Linked DNA regions of Homo sapiens: region 2 is linked to region 1. The links come from fine-mapping of genetic effects on gene expression. Tissue or cell type: whole blood. Region 1 holds a variant in brackets; the other region holds the start of a gene. All regions are shown on one strand. Distances are from middle to middle.

Region 1 (7,744 bases):
CTCCTATGCCCCAGCCACCAGGGAGTCCCTGGCAGGAATGACAGAGGCCTCAAAGCATTGGGAACCTGCAGGAGCTGAAACTCAGAGGGAGGAGAATGTTCTTCATGCATCAGCAGAGTTGTGATCCCAAAAGGAAGGGAGCAAACCCCTGTTGCTTTTTCTTCTTTGTGCTCCCACCACCTGGCCCTGCCATGAAGAGTGCAGCACAGCGGGATGCTGCAGCTTTAGCTTTCTGGCTGGGAGCGTGAAAAGGGAGCCCCAGGAAACAGGAAAGTACCAGGGAGATTGTAAAAAGGGAGGAGCTTGTGAAAGCAACCCCATTACATTGTTTACGAACTCCTTGAGGCACTCTCCAATTGCACATGTGTGGATCTGATTGTAATCACCATATAAAGGCTCTGAGAAATGTGCTAACAGGCCACATGCTCAGGTCCCAGACTCCCTGCTGGGTAGTGCACACAGGGTACCAGACAGTCAGCAAAGGCTTTGCAGACTGAGCTGACATTGGAACCACCACACACAGAAGGTTGGGACTTGAGGCCTGAACCTGACCAGGTTGACTGCCAGCCAAAACACAAGATATAAATGTTTCCCATAGAACTTAAATAAGACCCAGAGCCTCAAAATATAATACAGAAAACGTTCAGGTTACAATCCCAAACTACTCAGCTTGTGAAGATCCAGGAAAATGTCAACTCTCCTGGGAGAAGACATCAACAGATGCCCACTCCTAGATGACACAGATGTTGGGGTTATCTGATACCTTTTGAAGAAATTACTACAAAAATACTCAAATGAGTAAGGGTAGATATTCTCTTTTTCTTGAGATAAAATTCAAGTAACAGGCCGGGCGCGGTGGCTCACGCCTGTTATCCCAGCACTTTGGGAGGCCGAGGCGGGTGGATCATGAGGTCAGGAGTTCAAGACCAGCCTGGCCAAGATAGTGAAACCCCGTCTCTACTAAAAATACAAAAAATTAGCCGGGCGCAGTGGCAGGTGCCTGTAATCCCAGCTACTTGGGAGGCTGAGGCAGGAGAATCGCTTGAACTTGGAGGGTGGAGGTTGCAGTGAGCCAAGATCGCACCACTGCACTCTAGCCTGGGTGACAGAGTGAGACTCCGTCACACACACACAAAAAAATCAAGTAACATAAAATTAATCATTTTAACAGGGCGTTTAGTATGTTCAATGTTGTGTAACCAGTACCTCTATCTAGTTCTAAATATTTTCGTCAACCCAAAATAAAGCCTAGTATCCATTAAGCAGTACTTCCCATTGTCCCTTCCACACAGCACCCAGCAACCATCAATCAGCTTTCTCTCTCTATGGATTTACCTATTCTGGATATTTTATATAACATGTAGCTGTCATAGTATGTGACTCTTGTGTCTGAGTTTTCACTTAGCATAATGGTTTTGAGGTTACCTAGAGTTAGCCAAACTGCAGGTAACCTCAAAAACATTGTGCTAAGGTAGGGTCTTCCAGACCACCAAATTTGACTCCCAAGACTCTGACACAAATTTCAAGTTCAAGGGGTTCCTAAAACCACCCTCAGGTTGTATAATTCACCAGAAAGACTCGCTGAAACCTATTATATGTACGTCTATGTTTATTACAACAAAAATATACAAATTAGAACCAGCCAGAGGAAGAGATGCATAGGATGGAGTTGGGAGGGGTCTAAATGGGGAGTGTCCGGTGTCCTCTCCCCAGGGTCATGGACAGTTACTTCCTCGTGACCATGATGTGTGATAACATGCACAGAGTATTGCCAACCAGGGAAGCTCACCTGAACTTTGGTATCTAGAGTTTTTAATGAGGCTTCACTACATGGGCATGATTGATTAAACTCAATCTTCAGCCCACTCCACCCCAACCCTGGAGGTTGGGTTGAAAGCTCTCACAGTAAATTCTATGTTTGGTTTTTCTGGTGTGGCCAGCCCCTCCACCCTAAGACTATCAGGTGTGAGTGGCGTTATGAATAATCTCATCAACATAAACTATCAGGTGTGGTCCCAGTGACTCAACAGGAATAAAGAGGACACTCCTGTCATGTTGGAAATTCTAGACATTTCTTTGAGTGAGGCCAAATTCCTTACAACATGGAAGTTTATCCATTATAGCATTTATCAATACTTCATTACTTTTTTGTTTCTGAATAATCCATTTTATGTGTACACGATTTGTTTATTCACTTGTTTATTGCTGGACATTTGGGTTGTTTCCACCTTTGGGGTATTTTGAATAATGCTGCTATTAAACATGGATGTACAAGTATCTGAGTACCTGTTTTCAATTCTTTTGAATATATATCTGGGATGTTTAACTTTATGCATTAATTTGACTGGATTATGGGATACCCAGATCTATGGTAAAACGTTATTTCAGAGTGTGTCTGTGAGGGTGTTTTCTAGATTAGTATTTGAATCAGTGGATGGAGTAAAGAAGATCATCCTCCCCAGTGTGGGCAGACATCATGGATGAACTTCGGTGTTGAAGGCCCATTAAAATAGAACAAAAATGTGGAGGAAGTGCAAATTCTCTCTCTTTTTCAGCTGGATCACCTTCTCCTGCTCTCAGACAATGGAGCTCTTGGTTCTCAGGCTTTTGGACTCTAAGGCTTATATCAATAGCCTCCCACCCCCAGATTCTCAGACCTTAGGCCTTGGAGTGGGAGTTACACCACTGGCTTCCCTGATTCTCAGGCTCTCAGACTTCAACTGAATTACATCACCATCTTTCCTGGTTCTTCAGCTTGTAAATAGTATGTCATGGGACTTCTTGGCCTCTGTAATTGCATGAAACAATTCCCATAATAAATCTTCTCTATATGTATTGCATTGGTTCTGTTTCTCTGGAGAACTCTGACTAATATAATTCCTAAGAGTGGAATTTCTGGGTCATATGTAATTCTATGTTTAGCTTTTTGAGGAGCCACCAAATTGTTTTCCACAGCAACTTCCAACAGTGACAAGGGTTTCTTTTTTCTTTTATAGGTTCAGTATTCTTTATTATAAACAATCAGACAACAGTGTAAGTGTGCATTTGATGGATAACCGAAGCCAAGTTATTATAATAGAAAGCATGACTTCGCTCAAATAGAGTTTCTTTGTTGTTGTTGATCTGTTTTACATTAATTTGAATTTAACATATGCTAGGATCACCTAAATTTGTCATACAGTTCTGCTATTAAAATTGTAACAGGGAAAGACAAAATGTGAAATGCATGTTATATTTTGCTTTATTTGTTGAATATCTATCTATCTATCTACACTAAATATTTGGGACACATTCAGAGTTAAGCAGGTGCTTAAAGTCTATCAAGTGATATTTATAAAATGTTTTTGTTGCTGTTATGGGAACATCCATATCCTTAGAAGCCAATAAAAAAGAGGATTCTAAATGCTAGGTGGTTGGCTAAATGTTCCTGATTTATACTGAGTGTAAAACAAAATAAAACAAAACATAAGGTATATGTGTTAAGTAGTGACATCTACATAGTTCCAAAGCACTGGCAACTATTAAAATATCATCCAGCTAAAACAAACTTTTCACAATTTTTTTTAACAGAAAAATAATAAACCAACAACAAAAACTGGTAAATGTTCTGGGTCTTGTGAGCAGACCAAAATGTTACTACAGTGTTCTCTATTGTGTGATCCCAGTGTACAAGTTTCTATTTCTCCATATCCTTATCAACATTTGCTATTTTCCATGTTTTTGATTATAGTTATCCTAGCGGGTGTGAAGTGGTTTATCTCTTGCAGGTGTTAAGTGGTATCCCACTGTGGTTTTCATTTGCATTTCTTTAGTAACAAATGATGCTGAACATGCTTTCATGTGCTTATTGGCCATTTGTATGTCTTCTCTGGAGATATGTCTATTCAGGTTCTTTGCCTATTTCTTAATTTTTTTTTTTTTTTTTGTGGTTGAGTTTTAAGTGTTCTTTATATATTCTGGATACAAGTCCATTATTTGCAAATACTTTCTCTCATTTTGTGGGCTGTGTTTCTACTTTCTAGATAATATATTTTATTGTGCAAATGGTTTTACTTTTTATGAAGTCTAATTTATCCATTTCTTCCTTTTGTTGCTCATGCTTTTGGTGTCAAATCTAAGAATCCATTGCCAAGTCTGAGGTTATAAATATTTACTCCTATGTTTTTCTCTAAATAGTTTACCCCTATGTTTTCCTCTTGTATTTGGGTCATTGATCCATTTTGAGTTAATTTTTGTGTATGGAGTGAGGTACGGGTCCAGCTTCATTCTTTTGCCTGTGATTATGCAGTTGCCC[C/T]GGCACTGTTTGTTGAAGAGACTATTCTTTCCCCATTGAGTTGTGCTGAACACTTATTGAAAATCAATTAGCCATAGATATTTATTTCTAGGCTGTCAATTATATTCCACTGGTGTATATGTCTGTCCTTATGTCAGTACCACACTGGTTTGATTATAGAAGTTTGGAGCATGTTTGGAAATCTGGAAGCATGAGCCCTGAAACTTTGTGTTTCTTTTTCTTTCTTTTTTGGTGTGTTTCTTTTTCAATAGTATTTTGACTACTTGGGGTTCATTCCAGTTCCACATAAATTTGAGGATTAGTTTTTCTATTTCCTTAGGAAATGCCATTGGAATTTTGATAGGGGTTGCATTGAATCTGTGGATCATTTGCAATTAATATTCCAATACATCAACATGTGTTGTCTTCCATTTATTTAGGTCTTCTTTAATTTCTTTCAGCAATGTTTTGTAGTTTTCAGCATAGAAGTCTTTCTCCTTGGTTTAAGTATTTTACTCTTTTGGATGCTGTTATAAATGGAATTGTTACTTAATTTCATTTTCAGACTGTTCATTGCTGATGCATAGAAAATGGACTTTCGTGCACTGATCTTGCAATCTGCAACTATGTTGAATTTGTTTATTGGCTCTAGTAGTTGTGTGCATTTTGGTATTGTTATATTTTCTATACATAGAATTATTTCATCTTCAAATAGAGATAACTTTACTGCTTCCTTTCCAGTTTGGAGGCTGTTTATTGCTTTTTCTTGCCTAACTGCTCTGGCTAGGACTTCCAGTACAATATTTAATAGTAGTGGTAAAAATGGGCATTCTTGTCTTGTTCCTGCTCAGTGGGGAAGCTTCTGCTCTTTTACCATTGAGTATAATGTGAGTTGTGGGTTTTGTGTAAGTGACCTTTATCATGTTAAGGAAGTTCTCTGTATTCTGATTTGTTGGTGAGTGTTTGTATCCTGAAAGTGTTTGAAGTGTTGAATTTTGTTGCATGCATTTAATGTATCTATTGTGATATCATTTCCCTCTTTACAGAGTTGTGTTACATTGATGGATTTTTTTTTTTCTTATGTTGAGCCACCCTTGCATTTCTGGGAGAAATCCCACTTGGTCATGATCTATAATCCTTTGAATGTGCTACTGGATTTGGTTTGCTATTTTGTTGAGGATTTTTTGAGTCTATATTCATAAGATATACCGGACAGTCGTTTTGTCTGCCTTTGATATCAAGGTAACGGTGGACTCATAGAATCATACCTTTGATATCAAGGTAACGGTGGACTCATAGATATTCTGCATTTATATTTTTGTAATCACAATTTGTAAAGAATTCTCAAAATCCAACAGTAAGAAAACAAATAATCCAATAAACAAAAAGGCAAGGACTCTTTTTTTTTTTTTTTTTGGAGACGGAGTCTTGCACTCTCACCTAGGCTGGAGTGCAGTGGCACCATCTCGCCTCACTGCAAGCTCCGCCTCCTGGGTTCACGCCATTCTCCTGCCTCAGCCCTCCAAGTAGCTGGGACTACAGGCACCCGCCACCACGCCCGGCTAATTTTTTGTATTTTTAGTAGAGACGGGTTTTCACCATGTTAGCCAGGATGGTCTCGATCTCCTGACCTTGTGATCTGCCCACCTCAGCTTCCCAAAGTGCTGGGATTACAGGCATGAGCCACCATGCCTGGCCGGCAAGGACTCTTAAAAATGCTTTATCAAAAAGGATTTATGGGTGGCAAATGGCATATGAAAAGATGTTCAGCATCATTAGCATCACAAGACATGCTAATGTCAAAACCATGACAAGAGATAACTACACACCTATTAAAATGACTAAAATAAAAATGCTGACAATACCAAGTGTTGGTGAAGCTAAGTAGCACCCAAAAATCTCATATATTGCTGACAGGAATGTGCAGTGCAACAGCCACTCTGGGAAATGATTTGACAGTTTTAAATAAAGTTAAACATACACTTACCATATAACCCAGCCACCCCAGACCCTAGACATCTCTAGAGTATTCACCCTAGAGCAGAGGTCCCCAAAACCTAGGTCATGAACCAGTATCAGTCCATGGCCTGTTAGGAACCAGCCGCACAGAGGAGGTGAGAGGCTGGTGAGTGAGCAAAGCTTTATCTATATTTATAGCCTTGCCCCACTGCTTGCCACCTGAACTCCACCTCCTGTCAGATCAGATCAGCAGCAGCATTAGATTCTCATAGAAGTGCAAACCCTATTGTGAACTGTGCATGTAGGGGATCTAGACTGTGTGCTTCTCATGAGAATCTAATGCCTGATGATCTGTCGCTGTCTCCCAACACCCCAAGATGGGACCATCCAGTTGCAGGAAAACAAGCTCAGGGCTCCCACTGATTCTACATTACGGTGAATTGTATAATTATTTCATTATATATTACAATGTAATAACAATAGAAATAAAATGCACAATAAATGTAAATGTGCTTGAATCATCCCGAAACCATCCGCCCTACTCCCTAAGTCTGTGGAAAAATTGTCTTCCACGAAACCTGTCCCTGATGCCAAAAAGATTGGGGACTGCTGCCCTAGAGAAAGGAAAATTTTGTTCACAGAAAAACCTGTACATGAATGTTTATAGCAGCTCTATTTCTAATTGCCCCAAACTGGCAACAACCCAAATATCCTCTAATGGTTGAACAGATAGACAGATTGTTGCACATTCATATCATGGACTATTACTTGGCAATGAAAAAACAATGAACTTTCCATAAGCACAACATATGAAAATTGTTCCTCCAGATGAATCTCAGAGGAATTATGCTAAGAGGCCAGTCTCCAAAGGTTAAATGCTGTATGCTTCCATTTACATGATGTTCTGGAAAAGACAAAACCACAATGATGAAGAAGAGATCAGTGGCTGTCAGGGATTGGGTTTGAGGGGTAGTGTGACTATCAAGGCATTGCATGAGGGAGGTTCTGGGATGATGGAATTGTTTTGTGTCCTGATTGTAGTGGTGGTTACATGAATCTATACGTGTGCTGAAATCTGTATAATTATATACAACATAGTTAATTTTACTGTATGATAATTTTAAAAATTAAATGAATTAGAAAATGGTTAACAGTTAATACTCACTCATATGGCCAAATGTATAACAACTCTTATGAGGCAGCAGTCTGGCAGAACTTATTTTCTGGTCACAACCCTGCTGACCAAAACAGGATGTGGTCTACACAAAGTGAAGAAACCGCAGGAACCAGCAGATGGTGAGGAAAGTGATCCCTAGCTGCCCTCATTGCTCATTAGCATATGACACTCCCACAAGCACCATGACAGTTTACAAATGTCATGGTAATTACCTGGAAGTTACCACCCCTTTCCTAGGAAGTTCTAAATAACCTGTCCCTCAGTTTGCATTGGCTTGCCCCTTAATTTGCATGTAATTAAAAATGGGTTTATGTGAGTATACAGTTGCCAGGAGC
Region 2 (5,715 bases), 61 kb after region 1:
CCTTATTATATACAATTCTAGAAAATGCAAACTATAGTGACAGAATACAGATCCGTGGTTGTTTTGGAGACAAGGAGGAGTGGCAAGGACGAATCACAAGGAAACTTTTGGGCGCTGGATATGTTCATGATGCTGATTTTGGTGATGATTTCACAAGTGTGAAATACACCCAGCACTCACAAAAAAAACTTATCAAATTGTGTACTTTACATATGTACGGTTTAATATATGTCACTTACACTTCAATAGAGCTGTTAAAAATAAATTATTTGTAAAGATGAAGCCTGCGTGTGTGAGGAGAAAGAAGCAATGGAGGAGAGGAAGAAGGAAGCACTCAGAAAGTCTTATCTCAGCTAGGGGTGAGTCTGGGGAAGTGAACACCAGGGAAGAAGCTGGAGCCTGGACTCAGTCCTGGTGCCCACACCCCTTCCCTCCCTCTCCCCTTCTGAGTCCCCTTCTGTGTTGTCACTTGGGCTTTAGGAGGTGTCCTAGGAGGTTTGCCTCTGCCTTGTCAGTGGAGCTGGACCTTCTCATCTATTTTCCATCTGCATCCTCTGCCTTTCATGGTTCCTGTATGGGGCTCCCTTTAAAAGCCTTATAGAAAATGTGTTAGCCCCAGTCTCCTCTACTGCAAAATAGGGGCACTCATATTTTTCTCGGGGCTGCTGTGAGTATTAAATAGAGAAGTGGTGAGGCTCAATCCTGGGCCAGCTACGTAATTTGTGAGGCCAAGTGCAAAACGGGAATGCAGGTCCCTTGTTCAAAAACTATTGAGCAACACAGCAGAACATTAAACCAAGCATGGGGCCCTTCTAAGCAGGAGGCTCTGTGCCACTATATAGAGGGCACACCCAAGAACCAGCCCTGACTCAGCTTGAGATGCAGCTGGACTCAAACATTCCAACTGACTGGTTTAAGCAACTTCTCTTATTTTCCATCTATTCTATTGCAACAATCATTGGGAATATTTTTTATTCTGAGTAGTTTAGATTTCTGATTTCCTAGTCTAGTGCCTAAAACATAGCAGACACTCAAAAGTACCTGTGGAATGAGACCTAGCAATTATGATTCACATCTTAGAATTGAGGAAATCAGCTTAGAGAATTGAAGTGGTGTCTTGAGTCATACGGCCAATGAGTAAGGGAGCACCTAGGTCCGACCCCACACCTGGGTTCTGCCAGGATCTCTCCTGGGGATGGCCACCCCGGAGGACCAAAGATGTCATGGACAGAATCTAGATCTCAGTAGAGCCTGGAGCAGAGGCCCAGATGGGCAGGAGATGGAATGAGCCCACTGAGAGCCAAGTATCCCTGCCTGGTAGATCAGAGAGTTCTGGACTCAGAGGCTGAGCTATATATTCAGGGGTCTCAAGACTCTGGAGCTAACCTGGCCTGCCCCTGAGTTAGAGGAAACATGGGAATGATAATAATAATCGCCAAGAGTTATCAAATCTTTGTTATGCCAGGCACTTATGGGTATTATCTTGTTAAATTCTCCTAAGAAAGTCCCAAGGTGGGTCCTATTTTTAGCTCCATTTTACAGTTGGAAAAACTGAGGCTCAGAAAGAAATTACTTAAACTGGTTAGTGGTGAGGTTTGAGCCTACTGCGTCTTAAGCTGAGCCAGGGCTGGTTCATGGCTGTGCCATCTATGTAGTCGCACAGGGCCCTGTGCTTAGAAGGAGCCCATGCTTGGTTTACTGCTCTGCTGTGTTGCTCAATACTTTTTGAACAAAAGACCGCAGTTTTCATTTTGCAGTGGGTCTCATAAACTATGCAGCCGGCCCAGGGCTGAGCCTCACCACTTTTCTATTTAATACTCACAGTAGCCCTAGAGAAAGGTCCCATGAGCGTCCCTGTTTTGTAGAAGAGGCTCCTGGGGCTAAAAGAGCTGCAGCATCTGACGTGGGCATAGGAGCAATCAAGCTGGAAGCCAGTGGGTGTGAGCGCAGAGCCTGGGAGCTTATCACTTCACTACGCTGCTTCTTGGGACACTGGGGGTGCCCTCTGCCGGAGTCAGGCAAATTTTCAGTGGACCCCTCTTTACTCTATCTTCATGGGGTCAAGCTTCTTCAGGCATGGCAGAGCACTTAGTGCCCCTCTAGGGACTGACCAGCCGGGGGTGGACCCTGTTCTATCCTAGACCCCACTTACCTGAGGGGACAAGGACCAGTGCCAGCAGCAGGAAGCAGGGAGGCAAGTGGGCCAGGCAGGTGGGGGCCGACATCGTGGAGCACATGGCATCTTCTGTGGTCCCCAAGACTTGGGGCTCCTCTGCTCTCTTGTGAGTGTTGGAGTCTGAGGCGGGGCCCGTGGACAAGGCAGTTTCTGCGTCTCTTGGCCACAGCTGCTTGGGGAAGTGTTTTCATTGCAGCAACACAAGGCTGTTGGTGCAATAGGAAGGAGCCCGGTCAAAGGGTTTCCTGCTTTTGTGTCTGGGCTGTGATTCCTGTAGTCACTGTGCTAAAACCTTGCCATAGGCTCCATCCTAGGTGCCCGGGAGGGAGGTGGGCACTGAGGTCATAGGACGCACTCCAGAATCGGGTGGAATTTGGAGCAAACATTGGATCTTCCTCTTCTTGGCTGTGCAAGATTTCAAAGTCACTTCCCATTTCTGAGCCTTTTGTTTCTTCATCTGCAGCGTAGGAACAACGGCAGTTCCCTCCTCAGAACAGTTTTGGTAAGATTATGAGAAATAATGTGAGGGCACAGAACAATGTAAATGCTAAACATATTAACCATTATTATTCATGATGTGCAGAAAGTAGAGGAGGTGACATTGCTTAAGAAGAAGGATTTATTATAAAGCAAGCCCCATGGGGGCCTCCTTTTAGCACTGCAGGGAGGGTACAGGCCTAATTCCTAAAAGTATAATCATGTGTAACTCTCTCAGCCTCTGTTTCCTGGGGTCCAAGTGAAACATACTCAGATTGTGCAAACATTTGCGTTTGTGGCATCTTTGTTTCCTGTAAGTGATCTGAACTTCCTCAGGAGCCTCCTGGTGCTGGCTATCAAGAAGGAAAAGCTTAATCTTGCCAATTCATGCAATCCAGGCAATCTCTTTAGCCACACTGTCTGGGTTCAAATCTTGGCTTTACTCAGTCTGGCTGTGTGACCTTAGGACAATCATTTGACCACTTTATGCCTCGGTTTCCTCATCTGTAAAACAGGAATAAAAATGTGGTAGCATGTGTGGGGTGGAGTAAGCACTCTATAGGCTTTCACCATTGTCTTTTAGGTTAACTCAGTCTTTTAATTAACTCAGGGAAAAGTACAAGAACAACTCAGCCTTTCATTATTTCACTTCCTCCCTCATGCTTCAGAAGGTTCTGGGTGCAGAGGAAGCTGAAGATTCTCCAGCAACAGGGTGGCAGGCCTTGGATCTGAGTATGTCCCCTGGGTCCCAGAGGTCTGGTGTCTACTATGAGGAGGTTAGTCTGGCCTGGTCCCCAAGGACTTTGCACTGGGTCTGTGACTGGTCTTTTCTAGACTTTTGAGGCCTTGCATTGATACCCCTGCTCAATTCCATTACTCCCTCTACTTGTTCTCCTGTCAATGAGATCTATATAGTGAAACTTCTTTGAAAGGGCCACAAGCCTAGATGATTCCACCAGACCCTCAGTACTTTCCATGTCATTCTTACACGGGAATTTCTGAATCACCTGCTCATCTATGCAGATTTCTTTCTCAGCTATTGTTTTTTTCTAAAGTTTTACTTACAAATAATTTTATTTTAATAGGCAAGGCATTGTATTGGTTAGCTATTGCTGCATAACAAAGCACCCCAAAATTTAGAAGCTTAAAAACTAAATGTTCAGTTAATTTACTATTTTGTGGGTTGACAATTCAGTCAGGGCTCCATTTGGTGGTTCGGTCTTCTCATCTCAGCAGATTTTGGCTGGGAATGTTCATGCACTTGAGGTCAGCTGCAGGTTGGCTAGGTGGCTTTGTTACTGCGGTTGACTGATTGTTAACCCAGGTACCTCAGCTGTCCTCTATGTGGTCTCTCATCTTCCAGGACACTAACTTAGTCTTGTTCTCATGAAAGGGGCAGTTTTGAGAGACAGTGCAAGGTACAAGGAAACTTCTGCCATATTCTTTTGGCCACATCAAGTTACAAGACCAGACAAGATTCAAGGAATGGAAAATAGACTTTGCCTCTTGTTAGGGAACTGCAAAGCCTAATTGCAAAAGGTGTGGATACAAAGAGGGGGTATAGAATTGTGGATATTTTTGTGATTTATCTGCCATGGGCATCTACAGGTACAAAATTCAGAGGTCTCAGTGTCTCATTTATAGGGCTCCCAGACATTACTTTCCTTAGGGTTAACCACAGTCACCAGTTTTTGAAGACATTCATTTCCTTTACTGTTTCTGATCTAGTGCTCAGAAGCCAGGTTGAATATGGTTTCTTTGTGATGTCGTGGACTATGAACACCCTGGGAAGACAGGCCATGATCCCTTATGCTGTAGGAATCCCTAAACTCCATTCCCACCCCACCCCAGCATTTGGACCTCAGGACTGTGGGGTTGGCAGGACTCTAGCATCTCAACCCCTGTCTTCTCCCTCTTTTTCTTACTTCCTCACCAAGTCATAAGGGGAGGAGTTCCCCTTCTTTTCCTTCTGGTAGGGACTTTCCTAATCTCAGTCTTCTTCCTAACAGCTGGCCTTCTTTGTTCTAGATGGAATCCCTCCTGCCCCTTCCTCAAGACAGCAAGTCTCACACTCCAGCTTAGAATAGGAAAAAAGCTTCCAGGGAAGGAATTAAACTGCTGGGAGGTGGAGAAATGCAAAAGGAAATAGTTAAAAATGTTATATCTGTCACGTCATCTATAAAACACATGAAATGCGATTGCGCGTGAAGCACTGGCTTGCGATAATTGCTCAGTAACTAGGAACAGTGGCATTCCTCCTGGTCAGTGTGCTTGGGTATCACATGAACTATAGTGTCTATTACTAGCCTGAGTTAAGTTATCCTCAACAAGAGCACCCGAGGTATATATAGAACACAAGTCTACCCATAAAGCTTTTTTTCCTTCCACTACAAAAATGGAACTTTGTTAAAACAACAGCTTTTTGATTGTTTACCATAAAATGGAAAACATACTAAGCAAGCACAGGGAAAGCGTTCAACCTTAGCAGCAATCAAGTAAATACCAGTCTTAAAAAGAGCAACACTGGTGTCTTTGCAATCAGCATCTATCTCCACTTTTTCTATGCTCTCCTCTTTTTTTGGAGGTTCTAAAAGCCTAAGAACTGCATTTTCTGTAACTCTTTACCATCATTATTCTAGGAGAGAATAATGAACCAAGGAGAGGTTCTTGCTTAGATTTGGAAGGTAAAAGGAGAGGCATGCTTGCTTCTCTAGCCATGAAGAGGGGGCAGATACGTGAGAATTGGTGGATTTAATTTATGCAAATGTGAGGTTTTGCAGTGCTGCCTGTCTTCTATAAATCACCTCTAAAGCACAGGCAGCTGGCATCATTAGCAGCAGTTTCTGTGAGTCTCTCAGATTCCTGATTTTCCAAGAGCTACCAGTGAACTTGAGAGATAAAGCAGTGAGGATTTCCGATGGTCTGTAAACACCAAATGCCACAAGTCCCATGAGAACCAAGCATGGCTTTTTATGACCGAACACAAAAGTCATCCAGCCTCATTTCTTCTCTTTTCATTTAGGAGGAAGCATTTAGTGTCTCAATACTAAAGTCTCTAAGGT

The links. PIP is the estimated chance that this variant, and not a neighbour inherited with it, causes the effect.
Region 2: SIRPB2 starts here. The variant in region 1 is fine-mapped to the expression of SIRPB2 in whole blood (INTERVAL, PIP above 0.99).

What each region holds. Positions count from the first base shown.
Region 1 is chr20:1,427,561-1,435,304 of GRCh38, forward strand. No RefSeq gene overlaps it. Among named protein-coding and RNA genes, the nearest start is that of NSFL1C, 35 kb to the right of the region's middle. RefSeq lists an enhancer at 1-664. The variant C/T (reference allele first, on the strand shown) is at 4,295.
Region 2 is chr20:1,489,123-1,494,837 of GRCh38, forward strand. It overlaps SIRPB2 (signal regulatory protein beta 2), which reads right to left and starts at 2,298. Exons shown (of 5, transcript NM_001122962.2): 1 at 2,153-2,298. The coding sequence starts at 2,237.